2 linked regions of the Homo sapiens genome follow. The protein of the gene in region 1 purifies or fractionates together with the protein of each later gene. This does not show direct contact. Each region holds a gene or a part of one and is shown on either strand. Other genes may lie near its edges.

The links. Proteins that work in one complex are often made in the same cells at the same time.
Region 2: the proteins of ABCC12 (region 1) and SHTN1 purify together in Homo sapiens (affinity purification with mass spectrometry; one large-scale study listed by BioGRID and IntAct). This does not show direct contact.

Annotation. Positions count from the first base shown.
Region 1 is NC_000016.10:48,142,494-48,145,993, reverse strand, and holds part of ABCC12 (ATP-binding cassette sub-family C member 12), read left to right. Parts: intron 1-1,928; coding exon 1,929-2,084; intron 2,085-3,500. UniProt on the Homo sapiens protein: Probable transporter, its substrate specificity is unknown.
Region 2 is NC_000010.11:117,002,388-117,006,502, reverse strand, and holds the start of SHTN1 (shootin-1), read left to right. Parts: upstream 1-1,315; 5' UTR 1,316-1,423; coding exon 1,424-1,481; intron 1,482-4,115. UniProt on the Homo sapiens protein: Involved in the generation of internal asymmetric signals required for neuronal polarization and neurite outgrowth.

The DNA.
Region 1 (3,500 bases):
ATAGGTGAGGAAACAGGCACAGAGAGGTTAAGTGACTTGCCTAAGGTTTACCAGGTAGCTTTTGCTTTGTAACAGACTGTCTCAACACTTAGCAGCTTAAAACAATTGCCACTCATTTAGCTTACAGTTTGATGGGTGACCCATAAAATAAAGCAACTTGGGCTGAGCTCAGCTGGGTGGTTCATTTGGTCTTGACCAGGCTTACTCCTGTACAGCAAGGTGGCTGTGCTGCTGGAGGTGGGCCGGCTGTTGGCTGGGGCAATGGGGCAACTGGACCCCGCGTGTGCTCAACCTCCAGCAGGCTAGCCCAGGCTCGGTCACACAGTAATGTGGCAGGCTTCCAAGGGAATGAGTGACAGCATGCAGGGCTTCTTGAGATTCAGGTTTGCAACTGGCACACCACTTTTTTCACTGTATTCTATTGGCCAAAGCAGATCACAAGCCAGCTTATATTCAAAGTGTGAGGAAACAGACTCGACTTTTTGATGGAATGAGCTGCCAGGTCACATTCCAAGGAATTGGGAACAGATGGGGAGAGAAAACGGGGTCATTTTTGAAATCCAGGATAGAAACTCAGGTAGTCTGATTTCTGAGCTCACATGCTCAACCTTGCAGCATATTGTATTATTATATATATTATTAGCATTATGCTAACCATAACATTATGAAATGCTGCCTTTTCTACATGGAACGAGGCCCTGTGGTTTGTTCTCTGAGCAGCAGAAGGCCAAGTGGCAACTCTATAATAAGCGGACACTGCGTTATCTTCTCCCAGCATCTCTGTCTGGGCCAAGGACACACACATTTAAGCCCTCCAAGGTGAGAGGTGGAGGTTGGAAGGTGAGGACGTGGGCTATTATTCCTAGCCCCAGGAGATCTCTAACTGTCCACTTTTTCAACCAGTTTATAATCGCTTTGTGGAGAGGCAATGTGGGGAGGTGCTGAAGGGAATGACAGGACACTGGAGTCAACAAGCAGTGGGTTTGAATTCCCATCTCACCACTTTCCAGCAGTAAGACCTTGGGCAAATACTCTAAACTCTCTGTGCCTTGATGTTTTTGTCTATGAAATAGGCATATAATATGACCCTGCCACCCATCTTACTGAGTTGTTGTGAGGAATATATGAAGTAATGCATGACTGTATCATGAAAGTCACCTTTTAGGGAATTTTTACTATGTGCTGAGCTCGTAGTACCTTATTCACATGATTTTAGCTTGAATTCTCCCAAAAGCAGGGCCTCAGTCAAGAACCTGGAGGCAAATAGCTTATTTGAGAAGTGATTCCAAGCAGCAAGAAGAAAGATTTAGGGAGAGTGATGTAGGGAAGGAGGAAAAGGCAAAGTGAGGTGTGGCCTCAGCGTCACTGCTGTGAGCAGAGGGGCCTGGATCCTACTAGGTCCTTCTAGAAAGTGTCCAGTTTTCCACCCAGAGGATGTGAGGTGGACTTCTATACTACCTTAGTGAAGTTTTGCCCCTGGGGGTATTAATGCCCTGCAATTCTGGGCAGGAGGAGGAGGAAGAAGAGGAGAAGGAGGAAAAAAAGGAAGAGAAGGAGGAATGGGAGGGGAAAAAAGAAGGAAGAGGAGGGGAAGAAGAAATGAAGGAAGAAGAACAAAAAAAGGAAGTGATGGGTTTTGAGTATTATTACCTTTGTCTTTAAGACAATTTATTAAAACTTAGGTAATTTAATTTTGAATATTGACTGTGTTTAACAACTAACTTGCAAAATTCCTGAAAATTTAACAATTGGCTCTCACCAGCTGGCCCCAGCACATCACTGCTCAAAGGGCTAATAAACATAATGAATGCAAGTCACAGATTCTGAGTGCAGCTGTGGTTGTTGCTGTAGTTACAAGTTCAATCCAGAGAGAGAGTTGGGGCAATGACCCCAGTGCCTGGAACGCTGAGTGTCTTGTTTGTCTGCAGGTTAGCACCCAACCCGGTGGATGATGCCGGGCTACTCTCCTTCGCCACATTTTCCTGGCTCACGCCGGTGATGGTGAAAGGCTACCGGCAAAGGCTGACCGTAGACACCCTGCCCCCATTGTCGACATATGACTCATCTGACACCAATGCCAAAAGGTACCAGGATTTGCTTGGGTCACTGTATTAGTCCATTTTCATACTGCTATGAGGAAATACCTGAGAGTGGGTAATTTATAAAGAAAAAGAGGTTTAATGGACTCACAGTTCCATGTGACTGGGGAGGCCTCACAATCATGGTGGAAGGTGAAGGAGGAGTAAAGGCACGTCTTACATGGTGGCAGGCAAGACAGTGTGTGCAGAGGAATTGTCCTTTGTAAAACCATCAGATCTCATGAGACTTACTATCACAAGAACAGCACAGGAAAATCCACCCCCATGATTCAGTTACCTCCCACCAGGTCCCTCCCACGACAGGTGGAGATTATGGGAGCTAAAATTCAAGATGAGATTTGGGTGGGGACACAGCCAAACTGTATCAGTCACCTCAGGAGAGAAGCCCACTCTAAGGAAGGGGTCCCATAAACTCTTTTGTGTGCTCCCTAGTTGTGTGCTTCACAATTTCCCCAACATGGAAAATGACACCAATGGGTGTTGGTAACCATTCTCTGAGATTTGGGCTGGACTGCATGAACTTCTTGGCCCAAGCTGTGGGGAGGTGGGAATTAGGCAGCATTAGCGGGGAGAGAGGACTCATTGAAGAGCTATGGCCTGAGGCTCAGGACCCTTCTGGCTGAGCTCCAGCTGGTTTGCAGGGGCACCGCATCAGGACAGAGGTGGCTGGAATCTCACTTTGCCCTGTGCTGGTCAGACCCCACTTGACCAGCATGCAGCATCAGGTTTTGTTTTACTTTAAACATCATTATTGGACTTTTATATTACAAAATATATTTAGGTTGATCCTAATGAAACTGCCAATATTTGACAATTTTAACTTGTAAAAATGTAAATGTCATTTGTCCAACCTAATTCATATTCATTATAAAAATGTGAAAGCAGCAGAAGTTTAAGCCGTGGAAGGATCTCTCCCATGCTCCTGCTCTACTCCCTGGAGGCAAGCACTATGAAAATCTCACTGTGGCTCTGTCCAGAATTTTCCTACTCTGATTAAACACACCCTGGGCTACCGTCTTCTTCAGATCAGTACCTCTTCTTACCCCCCACTCACAGATCATGTTTTATTTTAATCTAAACAAAAAATGAAGCATACTACATAACTGTTGATCATGTTGCTCTTTTCAGTTAAGAGTTTATAAAGACTTTTCCATGTTAGGATGAAGACATCAACTTCATTTTTTCCAGCAGCTGCATTGAACTCTGTGGTTCTGATTAAATGTATAATATAAAGAATGGGGAAGGCCTGGGAGTGTTAGTCATGGCCTCCTAATTGCTTCTAGAATTGTGCTTCTCCTCATCTGTGCCCCGAAGAAATCTCAGCTAGTGGTACATTCCAAAATCTACCTCCTGGAGAAAGTTGCCAGGGAGCACTGAGGGCAAGGCACTGGACCACCTCTC
Region 2 (4,115 bases), on another chromosome or scaffold:
GCTCCGCCTCCCGGGTTCACGCCATTCTCCTGCCTCAGCTTCCCGAGTAGGTGGGACTACAGGCGCCTGCCACCACGCCCGGCTAATTTTTTGTATTTTTAGTAGAGACGGGGTTTCACCGTGTTAGCCAGGATGGTCTCGATCTCCTGACCTCGTGATCTGCCCGCCTTGGCCTCCCAAAGTGCTGGGATTACAGGCGTGAGCCACTGTGCCCGGCCACAGACCTGTAATCTTTATTAAAAACAAAAAAACAAAAAAAAAACAAAAAAAAACTGCATTATAAATTCTGGACTTGGTGTTTTGTTAATCTTCCTCTATTAAATCCTTACAACTCTTCCTTGAGAGTAGGTATCACTATTCTTCCTATTCTTCAGATGAAGTTCAAAGATGCAGGAGACTTGACCAAAGGTTAGCTCGCAACTAGGGGTTGGGGAGAAGCACCTTTGAAACAATGCAGACCTGCCACTTCTCTCCTGGGCATGGTCTAACACAGACATGAGTTCAAATAGTTCAGAGGGCAGTGAACTGGGACAAACGCTTGGCTTAACTGCCAGCCTCTGCTGCCCGGGGGCTGCGTGACCTTCGGCATTCGGACTGCAGTGGCACCCTCTCTAAAGGGAAGGTCATCCCGCCACCAACCAGATGATCTGCAAGGGCCCTCCAGGCCCCACCATCCACGTGCAGCAGGGTCCACGTTCTGACCACCTGGCAAACCTGGTGCGATGGGGGAAAGCTAGCCAGGGCCCTCCTTCACTCACGGCATGGTCATTTAAGTAGCTGGGCGGCCTGATTCGATCCTTGTCTCCTCTTCAAGGTGCAAAATGTACCACCCTGGGCCCGCCCCTGTGGGCAGCTAGGTTTTGCAACCGCGCCCCCAGAGTCTACTGCGGGAAAACTAGGGAAGAAGCCCAGGCGTTCATGGCTCATTGCGTCCCGCTCTACCTCTGTGGTTCTTTGGGAGCGACCCCCGGGAAGCGTCCAAAGTGGAGTTCCCACACACGCTGCGAACCCACAGCCGGTTTTCTCTGAACTCGCGTCCCTGAGTCCGGGAGGTGGAGGCGGAGAAAAGGGTGCGGAGCGACCCCACGCAGGGCCGCCCCCCCTCCCACCAGCGCGTCCTGCCGCGCCGGCAGCCACAGGCTGGCATAGCGGCTGCCGACCCGCCCTCGTTCCTCCACCCCCTGAACGGGACTGCTGGGCCCGCCCCGCCCCGCCTGCAGGTGAAGCGGCCGCAGCCGCCGAGTAGGTGCGTGGGGATGATCTCACTCGCGCGCTCCGCGCCAGGAGGAGGAGGAGCGGGAGCGGATCCAACTTCCGGGTAGTGGAGCCGCAAGCCACCGGCATCTTGCTTTTTCTTCCCCCTCCTCCTGTGTGCCCCGCGCCGCTCCCTCTTTCCCTTTTATTCCCGGCCCCACCCGCCAAAATGAACAGCTCGGACGAAGAGAAGCAGCTGCAGCTCATTACCAGTCTGAAGGAGCAAGGTAGGCAGCACGCGGGCGCCAGGTGTGGGCAGCCGCGGCCCGTGGGCGGGGACGGCCCCAGGGCGCTGGGGCCAGGGCAGTTGGAAGCCGGGCGGGAGACGTGGCGGCCGCCGTGGTCACCGCAGTAGCTCCGTCACCCGCAGAGAAGCGTCCTCCGTGGCCGGCGCGCCTGGGAAAGCTCTGGACCGAGGATAACGCGGAGTGTCGGGGCTAGTCAGGCCCCGCAGCTCGAGACCCGCTGCCCGCTGGTTGCGTTTGCTGGCGATCGGGGGCTGGGGGAAGGGACGAGGATTCAGTGCGGACGAGGTTGCACAGTGCCACCTTCCTTGCCGGAGAAGCGGGTGGGGCAGGATATTTTGGCTGCTTTGGGCGGCTCAGCTAGCTTGGCCCCACCCTTACACATTTGTTGGCGCTGGGTGGCCTGTAGGGCTGTTTCACACCCTTCCCAGCTTTTCGTTTGGATTCGGTCTAGTTCCTCTTTCCTTGCCCAGCTGGGATTTTCAGGCCATAATTTTTTTTTTAATCACTTCTCAATTTTAGCAGTTTATTAGTCAGCAAGGTCAACATCCTGCCAGTGTTGAGCTTTCAGAATTAACAGGGTTGACGCTGGGCGAAGGAGAGCCAGGCCATGCGCACGCATTTCTGTACTGCTTGGTAACTGGGGATTATCCTTTAATAAAGACCTGCTTCAGTCAATCATTTTTTTCATCAGTTACCACACTTCTGAACCAAACCAGATCAACAACCAAATGCTAACCTATCACATTTAAACACTTATCATTATTACCCTGACCAAAGGGTGGTCTGCGAATGTGGGTCAAGACAGGGAGGAACCAGCCGGGTGCGGTGGCTCACGCCTGTAATCTCAGCAATTTGGGAGGCCGAGGCAGGTGGATCACCTAAGGTCAGGAGTTCGAGACCAGCCTAACCAACATGGAGAACCCCTATCTCTACTAAAAATACAAAATTAGCCGGGCGTGGTGGTGCATGCCTGTAATCCCAGCTACCCGGGAGGCTGAGGCAGGAGAATCGCCAGGAGGCGGAGGTTGCGGTGAGCCAAGATGGCGCCGTTGCACTCCAGCCTGGGCAACAAGAACGAAACTCCATCTCCAAAAAAAAATAATAATAATAAATAATAAAGAAATAAAGGGAGGAACCATACAGATTTAAAGGAAGTAAAAATGTGTAGGAACATGTACTTTTCTGAATGTCTTGCTGACAAGACCATGTAATGGAAGGATCCCTGCTCTGTGGCAAAACCTGGTATTTAGTTGCAGCTCTTTCACTTCTCTTGGCCCAGCTCACCTGCTCTGTGAACTTGGAGGAGTCTCTTTCCTTCCGTGGATCTTCTGGTCAATCAAGGCCGACCTGACTAAAGGCGAGGGTGAAACTGGAGGACTTTCTGAGGTCCTGTCCAGTACTCTTACCTGTTGTTGCGTAAAACCACAGACACCGTTGGGAAGTGCTCCCGGATTCCTCTGAAGCCACACTCTGGCAAACAAATTTCAACATTACTGTTTACTGTGTGACCCTGGGGAAATTATTTAACCTCTGAAATGGACATAACACATTCTTCTGTGATATCCAGCATCTAGAAAGTGCTGGATAAATGTTAGTCTCTTTGGCCTTCCCAGCACCTTTACCTGGCATCCTAGATTAGCCTGAGGTCATAAAGTCACAAGCATCAGTGAATTTAGTGGGTGGACAGAATGCCTTTATCTGAAGTTTCTCAAGTGTTTTAGCGAGGGACTGGATTCTACTGACTGGTATTTTATATTTAATACACCTTCGCCCAACCCAAAACATTAAAACTTGATTCATATTCTAGATTTGTGGAGCTTTCATTATAGGTAATATCTGTCAGTGGATATCAGATCTTCTTATGGTTGGTCAGTTTTCGAATAATGATAAACATAAAAAAATTTTCCCTTTCATTTCTTGTATAATCAAGGGTCGATTAACAATGTAGATAATCTGCAAATTGCTTATATTTGATTTCGGAACACATTCTCCATTCCTATGTTGGGTTTGAGGCCTGACAAAAAGGATTTCTATATTTGTGGCTCTTTCTCCTATTGCATTGTATTGGAAAATAAACAAATCCTTGGCATTGGTATTTTTAGAGGATATATTTCCTTGATTAAGTGCATATGAAAGGTAATAGAACAGTTAGATATTCAAAGTTGTGTTTCTTAAAAGGTACACTTTTGGGGATAGTGAGTCTAGTTACAAAGGTGTTGGGATTTTTTCAGCCCACAGTGTGATTTTTATACATTTCAAAACCAGGTAGTTTGCTTGTCATTGGATCACAGACTGTGGAAACAATTTACTTCAAAAGTGTTCAGTTACTGTTTGACCTGTAGAACTAATTGGGAAGCTAGGGATTTGGAAGAACAGGTAACTGGGTCTTTGAGCATTTAACAGTACATACTATGATCAATTTTGTAAGCTGATGGTTGCATGGTTTATTTTTGAAAATAGTAATTTTTACTACCTGTTACTACCTTTTTACTCACAATGTTAATATTCTGAGTGATAATTCCACTACCCCTATTTAGTGTGAGCAAGAAGAACCACTATTTATCAAATATGTTATTTTCCCTTAATAATGCTGAGTAAACATATTTATTCATT